Homo sapiens: one gene and its partner. The protein of the gene in region 2 interacts with the protein of the main gene of each other region in a pairwise test. Each region holds a gene or a part of one and is shown on either strand. Other genes may lie near its edges.

Evidence for each region. Proteins that work in one complex are often made in the same cells at the same time.
Region 1: the proteins of CMTM2 (region 2) and MANBAL interact in binary tests that used the Homo sapiens proteins (3 or more experiments, as listed by UniProt).

Annotation. Positions count from the first base shown.
Region 1 is NC_000020.11:37,292,651-37,299,679, reverse strand, and holds part of MANBAL (protein MANBAL), read right to left. Parts: intron 2,385-7,029; exon of another isoform or gene 2,146-2,384; intron 918-2,145; exon of another isoform or gene 801-917; intron 1-800.
Region 2 is NC_000016.10:66,582,434-66,588,775, reverse strand, and holds the end of CMTM2 (CKLF-like MARVEL transmembrane domain-containing protein 2), read right to left. Parts: intron 1,780-6,342; coding exon 1,678-1,779; intron 858-1,677; coding exon 657-857; 3' UTR 501-656; downstream 1-500.

The DNA of each region.
Region 1 (7,029 bases), on a different chromosome or scaffold from region 2:
ACAGCACCCATCAGTGGCTTTCTTCTGCCCATCCCAATGATAAAGGGGCAAATTTACTTTGGAACCAGGCCCACTTGAATCTAAAACCCTTTGTGTTTCCAGAGATCTGTGCCACAATGCAATATTTTGCTAAGTCTGAGCTATCCAATATGGTGGCCATGAGCCACACATGACTATTAAGACTTGAAACGCAGCTAGTTTGAATTGAGATGCTAATTACACACCCATTTTCAAAGACCTAGTATGAAAATAAGAATGTAATCTATCTCATTCATAATGTTTTCATATTGATTACATGCTGAAACGATTGCAGTGGCTCACGCCTATAATCTCAGCACTTTGGGAGGCCACGGTGGGCAGATCACTTGAGCTCAGGAGTTTGAGACCAGCCTGGACAACACAGCGAGACCCCATCTCTACAAAAAAAATAATAAATTAGGCAGGAGTGGTGGCTCACTCCTGTATTCCCAGCTACTCGAGAGGCTGAGGTGGGAGGATCACTTGAGCCCAGGAGCTTAAGGCAGTGAGCCACGATCACGCCACTGCACTCCAGCCTGGGTGACAGAGCGAGACCCTGCCCCCACCCGACCCTGCCCCCACCCCACCCTGCCACCAAAAAATACACGTAAAAAATAATTGGCTGGGCATGGTGGGTTACGCCCAAAGTGTAAGCCCAACACTTTGACAGGCCAAGGCAGAAGCATCACTTGAACCCAGGAGTTTGAAACCAGCCTGGGCAACAGAGTGGGACCCTGTTGCTATAAAAAATTTAAAAATTAGCCGGACATGGTGGTACACACCTGTAGTCCCAGCTACTCAGAAGGCTGAGGCAGGAGAATTGCTCCAGCTGGGAGGTCTAGGCTGCAGTGAGCCAATGAGTCGTGATTGCGCCACCCTGAGTGACGGGGTGAGAGATCCTGTTTAAAAAAAAAAAAAAATTGAATTGAAAGCAAGGACTCAAGATACTAATGTTCATAGCAGCATTATTCACAATAGCCAAAAGATGGAAACAACTAAGAGTCCATAAACAGATGAATGGATAAGCAAAACGTAGTATATACATACAATGGAGTATTACTCAGCCATAAAGGAAATGAAATTCTGATACATGCTACAACATGAATGAACCTTGAAAACATTATGAGCTTTGAATAAATATATATGAAATAAGCTAGACACAAAAGGACAAATATTGTATGAGTCCCCTTATATGAGGTACCTGGAATAGGCAAATTCAGAGACAGAAAGTAGAATTGAGGTTACCAAGGGCTGGAGGGAAGGGAAATGGGGAGATATTGTTTACTGGGTACAGAGTTTCAGTTTGCAAAGATGAAAAAGTTCTAGAAATAGACAGTGATGACGGTTATACAACACTGCAAATACCACTGAATTGTAAACTTAACAATGGTTAAAATGGTAAATTTGTTACATATATTTTGTCACAATTTTTTAAAAATCTGTTTCTTTTTACCCATTTATTTATTTATTTATTTAGAGACAGGGTCTCACTCTGTCACCCAGGCTGGAGTACAATGGCACAAACATAACTCACTGTAGCCTCAAACTCTTATGCTCAAGTGATCCTCCTGCCTCAGCCTCCCAAAGTGTTGAGATTACAGGCATCATCCCTTTTTGCTTTTTAAATGTGGCTACTGGAAAATGTAAAATTATACATAGTCTGTATTATATTTCTGTGGGGAAGCCCTGGGGTAGAGACAATCCTAAAGACCTGCCTCACAGGGCGCAGTGGCTCACGCCTGTAATCCCAGCACTTTGGGAGGCTGAGGTGGGCAGATCACCTGAGGTCAGGAGTTTGAGACCAGCCTGACCAACATGGAGAAACCCCGTCTCTAATAAAAATACAAAAAAATTAGCCGGACATGGTGGCAGGTGCCTGTAATCCCAGCTACTTGGGAGGCTGAGGCAAGAGAATCGCTTGAACTCGGGAGACGGAGGTTGCAGTGGGCCGAGATCACGCCACTGCACTCCAGCCTGGGCAACAAGAGTGAAACTCCATCTCAAAAAAAAAAAAAGGCCTGCCGCCACCTTGGCTCTGCTGCTTCACTGCTTTGCACCATGTTTCCAACATGAAGTAACCGAAGAATAATAAAAACAACCTTCGTAAGTAAACAGAGCCGGACTTACACACGAGTATTGCTTCCCTTTCAGCCTGGTCACTTCAGAAGGTCATGTGCCTGGGGCAACAGGATGGCCACTTTTCACATCAGCTCTGTCTACCATGGGAATGGCCTTCAAAGCTTGAGGCTCTTTTTCTTCCCAGCCAGAATCCTCAGAGCTGGCAGATCTTCATCCTCCCAGGAAGGATTTGACTTCTGGAAAGAGCCCAACATCATCTGGTTCCAAGTGCAGTGAATCAGGTGGCACTGAGCTCAGGAATACCATTTTTGGTCAAATACAAGGTATGATGCTCAGACTCCAAGCAGATTACTTGGGGTGGCTCATAAACTGGCCCTGAAGTGAATTCCAAGGCGGCTGCAAGAACAGCTTCACTGGAAGAAATGTAACAGCCTCTACCAGCACCACCACCATGTGAATACCAAAGCTTAAGAACGCGTCCTCATTTCTCCGCAGTTGCACCTCATAAAGTGTGCATTTTTTAAAACGCCCTTGGCCCCAAGCTTTTTGCTTAAGGCTGTAACAAGCTTTATGAGCTTATAAATACTCAGATTTACTAGTGTTACTACTAACAGCAACATTGTGATAAGAAATATTTGGAGTGGTACAATAGAAAGATAGGGCAAGAGTTGGGAAGCAGAGGACAAAAGCCCCTGCTCTATCTGCAAGTAGCTACACTTTGGGCTAATAATCTCTTGACCTCTGGAGACGGGATGTTCTCATGAGCCAAGCAACAATGATACCTATAATACATTTAGGCCTTTTTTTAAAAAATGGCAATTAGACAAAATATAACAAGAGCCATAAAAGTGATTATATCCTTTGACTGAATAACTTACTTCCTAGAATTTATAGTAAGGAAACAATTCAAAAGAAGAAAAAGCCTTCAGGTACAAAAAAGTTCATGGCAGCACTATTCATAATACTGAAAAACAGGAAGCAACCCAGGCGTCCAACAATCAGGAAGCAGTTAACCCAGTGATGGTACATCATGGCATAATCCCTCTTCACTAACCCGGCAAATATAAACATTGTGTATCAGGTCAGTGGAAAGTCTTTGCAAAGTAACAGTAATTGAAAAAAATAAGCAATTGTATAAACACTATGATTGGAACCATCTATAAGCTGATTTCATGGGCTAAAGATCAAAAGATGCTACAGAAACATAAATAGTTGCTGTTAAGGTGAATAAGTCATGAGTTTTAATTTTTTGGAATGTTATGAAACAATAAAGTATCTAAGAAAAATCTATGCCCTACCTACTTCCTTCACAAGACTTTTGTTAGGGTATAATGTCATACTGTCCAATAAAGCTTTCTGCAGTGATGGAAATGTTCTGTATTTGTGTTCTCCAAATGGTAGCCACCAGCCACATGTGGCTGTTGAAAACTTAAATGTTACAGAGAAACTGAATTTTTCATTTTATTTAACTAATTAACAATAAAAAGCCACATGTGGCCAAAGGTTCCCTACTGGACAGCACAGGTGTAACAGGAGGGTGGTTGTGAAAAGGTTCTGGAAACATAAACTGCTCTACACACACTGTGCGCCGTACGGCTCTCATCTAGTTCTCTCTGCACCTCTGTGCTTTACTTCCCAGCCCTCCTGCCAGTATTTCTGGGCTTTCCTTTCCTGATGACCAAAGTCAAACAAGTCCTATTCATCCTGCAGATCTCAACTAGGAGACACCCCTTCGACTGGCTGTGACAGGTTTTGTTCCCTGGCCATTGTTCCAGCAGCAGCAGCAGTCGGCAAATGAACGGCCAGGTGTTGCGAACAGCACTTTACAGGCAGCAACTCGCATACTTCACCACCACACTGGGAGGTGGTATTACTAATGAGGATGAGGAAACCAAGGCTTGGAGAGGTTATATGACCTACCCAGGGATAACCTGGCTGATAAGTGGCAAAGGCAAGATTCAAAGGGGCTGGCTTCCCCAGAGTCAGGGCGCTTACCCAGTATGTCAATCGTTTTCAAACTGCAGGCTGTGGCCCATTAGTGAGCCAGGAAAACCATTTAGGGGGCTGCAACCAGCATTTTTTATTAGCCAGCACTTTATTTAAGTAGGTAAATAACAATAGAAAATATCAAAGAGTATCACATTAAGGGCCGGTATTATATCCTGAAGCTTTTTCAACATCCATCTACATCTGAGCATGCATGTGCTGGATCAAATTTTAGAATGTTATTTCTTATTGTTTGAGAAATATTACACTGGAATCTACTGTTTTCTATTTGATCCATTGTAATCTCTTGAACAGCAAGGATCTTGGGTACATCTTGAGTTTATTCCAGGTCCTGACTCATAAATATTTGGTAAATGACTAAGCCTATGCCTCTGTTTCCCACCTCGAAAGCAAGAGCAGATGCCTCAACCAACAGAGTCATCATTTAACGACAAGGAGGAGCTGAGAGGCCACGAGGTTTCCCTAGACTCTCCTGATGAGTCAGGGCAGAGCTGCTATCCTGGTCTCTAGCCCTGTCCTGCTCCAGACTTGCTTACAGGTAGAGGTTTTTATACACCAGGGGACTTTCATACCCCATCAGAATTTAACAAAAGGTGCATAATTAATTATTACTGAACGTGGCAAATAATTTCATGAGGTTACTGGACACTGCGAAGTTCACCCCTGAATGCCAGACACTGGTGACGTAAGACATTAATTCATTGGACAAATATTTATTGTGAATCTACTATGTGCCAGGCACTGGTCTAATCCCTGCCACGGAGTTTCCATTCAGTTAGAAGTACTCACATACACACATACACATGCAATGTCAGGGGTGAGTATTACAATACATACAGGAAGGAAGAAGAGGATAGTACTATTTAATATGAGGTGGTCGGGGAAGGGCCTCTCTGCAAAGGTGACATTTCAACAGAGGAAAGAAGAAAGCAAAGGAAGAAGTCATTTAAACATCTGCCAGAGTATCCCAGGATGGAGGGACGGCAAGGGCCAAGTCCCTGAGGCAGGAATAAGCATCATGATCAAGAACAGTCAAGTAAGCAAGCTGCAGGCCATTATGAGGACTCTGGCCAGTCTCTGAGTGAAAAGGGAACTACTGGAAGGTTCTTAGCAAAGAAATCACATGGTCTCACTCATTTCAAAATGATCCCTCTGGCTGCTTTGTTGACAACAGACTGTAGGGGACAAGACTGAAAGCAAGGAGACCAGTGAAGAGGCTACTTTAACAGTCAAAAGACACATTTGCACCAGGGTGGTAGCTGTGGAGGTGGTAAATTCTCAGCTTACAGATATATTTTGGTGAAGGCCAACAGGAATGCTGAGGTGAAATCTGAAAGAAGTTAAAAATAATCCCTGAAGAAGGGGAAACTATCCTGTATGACACTATAATTAGGAATACAAAATATTAAGCATTTGTCAAAACCCAAAAATCTTGACAGCACAAAGAGTAAAGTTTAATGTATGCAAATATTTTTAAAAAGACATAGGAAGGCCATCACAGTGGCTCACACCCATAATCCCAGAACTGTGAGAGGCCAAGGCAGGAGGATTGCTTGAGCCCGGCAGTTTGCGACCAGCTTGGGCAACATAGTGAGACCCAGTTTTTAAAACACACCAACATACACACGCATGAAGTCAGGGTGTTCCAGGATGGAATGCAGAATGTGACATTCTGAATCCAAATGTATTAAACAACTTCACTGAAAGGGTAGTGGGGGAATAGGGTGCTGACCTAAGTAACTTTGAAAACGAGTGGAGCCTGTAAGACTGAAGGCAAAAGGAACTGCACGTACACACTGTACTCTAGCTGATAAGTTGTTTCCCACAGGGGATCGGGGGAGCAATTCTAAAACCACCATACATGTATGCTAAATGGAACAATTAAGTAAATGTATGGTGAATGGTGGGAGTCGGGTTTGTCACAGGTGGAGTGGGAGGTTACAGACAAGCAAGAGAAGGAAGCTAGAACACAGGTCCCCAACCCCCAGGCCACAGACCAGTACCAGTCCATGGCCTGTTAGGAACCAGGCCGCACAGCAGGAGGTGAGCAGCAGGTGAGCAAGCGAAGTTTCTTTTATATTTACAGCCGCTCCCCATCACTCACATTACCGTCTGAGTTCCACCTCCTATCAGATCAGCGGCTGCATTAGATTCTCATAGAAACACGAACCCTATTGTGAACTGTGCATGTGAGGGATCTAGGCTGTGTGCTCCTTATGAGAATCTAATGCCTGATGATCTGTCACTGTCTCCCATCACCCCCAGACGGGACTGTCTAGTTGTAGGAAAACAAGCTCAGGGCTCCCACTGATTCTACATTATGGTGAGTTGTATGATCATTCCATTATATATTACAATGTAATAGTAACAGAAATAAAGTGCACAATAAATGTAATGCACTTGAATCATCCCAAAACCATCCCCACCCCCAGGTCTGTGGAAAAATTGTCTTCCATGAAACCGGTCCCTGGTGCCAAAAAGGTTGGGGACTGCCAAGCTAGAACAATCCATGCAGTCATGGATAAGAGTTGGACATCAGTTATGTTTAGCTGAACGTAGATACAGGTGGTTATATATGGAAATACTTCTAGATCTGTGCATATATACGTATGTCTCTTACTCTGTCCACTGCGAAGGCCTAGAAGCAAGGACACTGAGAAGCACTGAGCATACCTAGAGCCCAGATCTTGTTTTCTGGGCCATTCTCCAATAAAAGGAGCCAGGGCTCCTTGGGAAATGGCTAATTCTAGGACTGGGGCAGAAACATACCAGATGAGTCTGGAATAGAAAGAAAGTGCTCAACAAAACAAAACAAAGCAAAACATATAGAGGGGGATATGTCAAAGGGATACAGGAGCCAAGTGGAAGAGCTCCCAATGGCCAATGGAGGAACAATTTCAGCAACAAAATAAAGTAGTACTGGAT
Region 2 (6,342 bases):
GAGGCTGAGGCAGGAGAATTGCTTGAACCTGGGAGGTAGAGGTTGCAGTGAGCCGAGATCACACCGTTGCACTCCAGCCTGGGTAACAAGAGTGAAACTCTGTCTCACCAAAAAACAAAAACAAAACAAAACAAAACAAAACAAAACCAACCTAAAAACTAAACTGCAAGGAAGGCCAACAAACTTATTTTTCTCATAACAATTGCTTGGATGCTTTTTTAAAAAAGTAAAATTAAAATAATCAGTGTGAACAAAATGATCCTTTTGTTTTCTGGTTTCTTGTCTTCCTCTGCCCCCCATGCCCTGGCCCCCTGCCCCCTGCCAGTTGGTTGGGGCCACTAGCCGGCAACACCTACACTTCTGGTCCCCCAGGCCCTTGGTGCCCAGTAGCCTGGGAGCACTTCAGGAGCCTTGGCTCCCAGGCCCTGCCCTGGCCTCGCCCTCTGCACCCTGACAGTCAGTAACTTTTGCTGAATGAACAAAATAATGCTTACATCAACTTTAGGCTTTTAGAATCCATTAATCCATTCTTTTCCAAGCAAAGGTGGTAATGAAAATGGAAAAGAAAACCATTCCAGAAAGAAGACAAGGAAGAGAGTGGAAACATATTGCTGTAAAATACACTGCCGTTTCAGACACCAGGAGCCTCCTCCAAGTCATTTCTTTCCCTTTGCTGGCCCTGGTGGCTTGCCAGGTTCTGGTGGCTTGGCGGGTTCTGGTCCCTTGCCCTGCTGGGGTCCTTTTTCCTTTCCTGGAGGAGGAACCAGCATATGCTTTTTGGCCTTCTTGCCTCTGAAGTGGTTTCTTTGAAGACACACATCGATAAAAGCAAAAACTCCAGCCGCACCAATAAGGATCTGGAAAACAAAACGGTCCTCATGACTTTTGCTTTTCATTCCAAAGGTGGTGAGTTTCCCTCCTGGTTTCTCATTCATCAGGGGGTGCTGTTTCACACATCCCCCATGTCCCCTCAAATGTCAACCATCTCTGAGAGGCTAGGAGCGTGCCTACTCCCTCAGCCTTTGCCTTCTCCACTCCCCCGTCCTGCCATCTCATCTCTGTTTCTTTTCTCTCTTGAAACCCAGCCAGAGTGGGACTGTTTGCTCTGGGGTCGGCAGCTACAGGAAGGAACTTGGGCTGGCTCCCCGGACATCATCTTTATTTAAATGGTGGTTCCGTTGGAAACATCTGTCTACTTTACTTTTTTTTTTTTTCCTTTGAGACGAAGTCTCGCTCCGTCGTCCGGGGTGGAGTGCAGTGCTGCAATCTCTGCTCGCTGCAACCTCTGCCTCCTGGATTTAAGCGATTCTCCTGCCTCAGCCTCCCAAGTTGCTGGGATTACAGGCATGTGCCACCATGCCTGGCTAATTTTTGTATTTTTAGTAGAAAATACATTTTCTACTAAATTTTGTAAATTTTGTGTTTTTGTATTTCACCATGTTGGCCAGGCTGGTCTCAAACTCCTGACCTCAGGTGATCCGCCCGCCTCGGCCTCCCAAAGTGCTGGGATTATAGGCATGAACCACTGCACCCGGCCTACTTAACTTTTAAACTTTGCTTTGATCCCAAGACTTTTGTGGAAAATAAAGAAGCCCTTTCCTTAAACAGAGGACAACACCCATCCTCCAAAAGAAGTGAATTCAGAGCAAATGCAAGGCCCAGCATGGAAAGACTCACCACAGCAAGTAAGTAGTGGAGATTCATGGATCGCCGACTTCTCACAGCAAAGACCACGGCTCCCACAAGGAACGCACAAGCAATCAGGTCGTTGAAGAGGTCCTGAAGGTGGAGAGGTTAGTCAGCCTCAGCCAAAGCCAGGGTCCCCATCAACAAACACTGCACCCTGGCTAGCTTCCTCCAAAGGAATGATTTGCAAATTTCCACCTGATTTTAAAATGTATGCATAAAGATAAACACACACCGGGCTAGGTGGACATATCTGTGGCCCTCCAGCTGGGCTTTTTAAATTGAAACCTAAAAAGTCCAGGATGCTAAAATGCCCTCGTGCTGAAGCCTGTGAAGTCACCAGCCCCCTCTTCTACCATCTCTCTGTGAAATCACACATTTGGTTTCTGCCTATGTCTCCTCCCACTAATACTCATTTATTATTTTTATTTTCTACTTTTTGAGACAGGGTCTTACTCCGATTATGCAGGCTGGAGTGCAGTGGCACAATTTCTGCTCACTGCAGCCTCGACCTCCTCAGGCTCAGGTGATTCTCCCACCTCTGCCTCCTGAGCAGCTGCGACTACAGGTGTGTGCCACCAAGCCTGCCTAATTTTTTTTTTGTGTGTATTTTTAGTAGAGACGGGGTTTCACCATGTTATCCAGGCTGGTCTCGAACTCCTGGACTCAAGCGATCTGCCTTCCTCGGCCTCCCAAAGTGCTACGATTACAGGTGTGGGCCACAGCGCCCAGCCAATACACATTTAAATAAATACACAACTATAAAACGTCATGATGTCCCTCTTAAGGACCCCACCACCGCCTTTCAGCTCCCAGGACCAGCTCCCCTCTCTGGAGTCTGGGTGGGCTGCACTGGCTCTGATGGACTCTAGCATCTCACTGGGAGCCTGGCAGCTTCTTCTGCAACCCCCTGCCCTCGGCCTGACTTCCTAGACCCCTTCCCCTCTTTGCAAGGCAGCACCACCTCTTCCTTCCTCAACCCTCCTGCCCATCCCCTGTGACTTCAGTCTCGCCCTCCCCATACCATATACGCATTTCCCTCCTGCTAGTGACAAGGCATTGCCAAACTTCTCAGAGCTGGCCAAACCATGGCCATAGCAGGCTGGCTTCCTCCCGCATTTCTCCTGGGCCTAGAGGATGGGGTGAGAAGCAGCTGATCCTGCAGCGCTGGAAGACACCTGCCATCCCCCTTGGTTTCTATAGTGCCATTTCCTGCTGTTGTCCTTTCCTGGCCACTTTGTTTCAGGCCTTTTCCTTTTTAATGTTTTGAATTTTGATACATTTCAAATGCCCAGAAAATAATAGAACATCCTATCCCCGACTCCCACCTCCACCAGGCCAGGAGCCACTGACATTTAACAGATGTTAACGTCTTGCCAACGTCCCCTTTAGGCCTCTTTGAAAACAAGAAGTCCAACTTCACGGATGGAGCTGCAGCCCCCTCGCTTCCTTCCCTTTTCCTGTCCCTCATGCCTCCCTCCTCCAACTTTTGGAAGCTGATGTGCAGTTTTCCTGTCTGAATTTGTGCTTTTCTACATATTATATATTTATAAACAATGTATACTATTTTGTGTATTTCAAAATACACTTTTTATATTTAAATAAAAAGTATCCTACCTTTCAATGCTTGCTTTTTGACTTTTGAGATTTATCCACATTGAGAAATATAGATTTATTAATTTTAACTGATGTAGCCTACTATATGAATGAACGAAATGAGACACAGGGTGTTTCTACCACTCACTGCAGTCTTGAACTCCTGGGCTCAAGTGATCCTCCCCACCTCAGCCTCAGCTGGGACTATAGGCACCTGCCACTGTGCAATTAAAAAAATTGTTTTTGTAAGCTGGGCGCAGTGGCTCACGCCTGTAATCCCAGCACTTTGGGAGGCTGAGGCGGGCGGATCACCTGAGGTTGGGAGTTCGAGACCAGCCTGACCAACATGGAGAAACCCCGTCTCTACTAAAAATACAAAATTAGCTGGGCGTGGGGGTGCATGCCTGTAATCCCAGCTACTCAAGAGGCTGAGGCAGGAGAATCACTTGAACCCGGGAGGCAGAGGTTGCGGTGAGCCGAGATTGCGCCATTGCACTCCAGCCTGGGCAACAAGAGCAAAACTCCATCTCAAAAAAAAAAAAAAAAAAATTGTTTTTGTAGAGGCAGGGCTTCCCTGTGTTGCCCAGGCTGGTCTCCAAGTCCTGGACTCCTGGACTCAAGTGATCCTCCTGCCTTGGCCTCCCAAAGTGTCGGGATTATAGGTGTGAGCCACTGTACCTGGCCTATGATGTCTTCTGTTGAAGTTTTAATTTTAATGGGATACATAGTCTGTCTCTCTCCCTCCCTTCCTCTCTGTCCACAAATCCCAGGGACATTTATTGAATATTCTATTCAACTGTTCTATAATGCTACCTCCGTCATATACCAAGTTGCCATATGTTTGTAGATCTATTTCTGAGTTCTCTTTTCTATCCCTGTATTAGTCTACTCAGGATGCCATAATAAAATATCCCAGACTGGGTGGCTTAAACAACAGACATTAACTTTCTCGCAGTTTTGGAGGCTGAAGTCCATGAGCAAGGTGCCAGGAAATTCAGTTTCTGGTGAGGGCTCTCTTCCTGGCTTGCAGATGGCTGTCTTCTCACTACGTTTTCACATGGCCTTTCTTTGATGCGTGCGTGTGTATGTGTGTGCATGTGTGTGTGTGTAGAGAGAGAGCAAGCGGGAGAGAGAATTCTCTGCTCTCTTATAAAGATACTGGCTGGGTGTGGTGGCTCACACCTGTAATCACAGCACTTTGGGAGGCCAAGGCAGGCAGATCACCTGAGGTCAGGAGTTCAAGACCAGCTAGGCCAACATGGCAAAACGCTGTCTCTAGTCAAAATTACAAAATTAGCCGGGCTTAGTGGCGCATGTCTGTAATCCTAGCTACTCAGGAGGCTGAGGCAGGAGAATGCTTGAACCAGGAGGTGGAAGTTGCAGTGAGCTGAGATTGTGCCACTGCACTCTAGCCTGGGTGACAAGAGCAAAACTCTGTCTCAAAACAAACAAACAAAAGACACTTATTTGATCAGGGCCCCAATGTTCTGACCTCATTTAACCTTAACTACCTCCTTAGAGGCCCATCTTCAAGTACAGTACAGTGGGGGTTAGGGCCTCAACGTATGATTTTGCAGAGTGGGAGACACAAACATTCAATCTGTAACAATTTTGTTAGTCTTCTTGTCAATCCCTGAGCTAGTACCAAAGCTTTATGGTAAATCTGATATCTTGTTGGGTGAGTCCATCCTTGTTAGTATTTTTTCTTCTTTGATAAGAATTTTAGAATCACCTTGTAAAAGTGCCATGAAAAACCCATGTTAGGTTGAAATTTTATTTAATTTATAGATTAATTCAGAATTGAATTGACATCTCTATGATAAGTTTTCATATTTGTGAATGTGGAATGTTTCTCTATTTACATTTTCCTTTGATGTCCATTACTAAAGTCTTATAATCTCTATGTAGTGTCTTACACATCTTTCAGTAGGTTTATTCTTAGACACCTTGTAGTTTGTGTTGCTGTTTTAAGTGATTTCTTTTAAAGAGCATTTTTTTTTTTTTGAGACAGTCTCGCTCTGTCACCCAGGCTGGAGTGCAGTGGCTCCATCTCGGCTCATGGCAACCTCTGCCTCCTGGGTTCTAGCGATTTTCATGCCTCAGCCTCTCGAGTAGCTGGGATTACAGGCATGCACCTCCATGCCTGGTTAATTTTTGTATTTTTAGTAGAGCTGGTGTTTCACCATGTTGGCCAGGCTGGTCTGGAACTCCTGGCCTCAAGTGGTCCACCCACCTCGGCCTCCCAAAGTGCTGGGAGTACAGCTGTGAGCCCCCGTGCCCAGCCAAAAAAATCCTATGTTTCTCATTGTTCATTGTTGGTATTCAGGAACACTACTGCTTTTGTGTCTGGTAACCTTGTGGAACTCAATCAGTTCTAGTGATTTGACTGTAGATTCTCTTAGATTTTCTGTGTAGATAATTCTATTAGATTTTTCCTCTTGTCAATCTCTATACCTTTTGTTTTTCTTGTCATATTGAACTAAGGTCTCTATCACAATGTTGAATACAAGAGAAGCTAGTAAGCATCTCTAAGGAAATGCTCCTGAAGTGTCACCTAAAATACAATTTGTGCAGGTTTGGATAGATGTCTATTTTATTTTATTTTATTTATTTATTTTTTGAGATGGAGTCTCACTCTGTCGCCCAGGCTGGAGTGCAGTGGCACGATCTCGGCTCACTGCAAGCTCTGCCTCCCGGGTTCATGCCATTCTCCTGCCTCAGCCTCCTGAGAAGCTGGGACTACAGGCACACATCACTGTGCCTGGCTTCTTGACACCTCTTTTATTATTTTTTAGACAGGGTCTCACTCTGTCACTCAGATTGGAGTGCAGTGGCACCATCAGAGCTCTCTGTAGCCTTGACCTCCTGGGTTCAAGCCATCCTCCCACCTCAGCCTCCTGAGTAGCTGGAACAACAGGCATGTGCCACCATGCTTGGCTAATTTTTAAATTTTTTTGTAGAGACAGGGTCTCCCTATGTTGTCCAGTCTGGTCTCAAACTCCTGGACCAAAGGGACCCATCCACCTCAGCCTCCCAACGTGCTGGGATTACAGGTGTGAG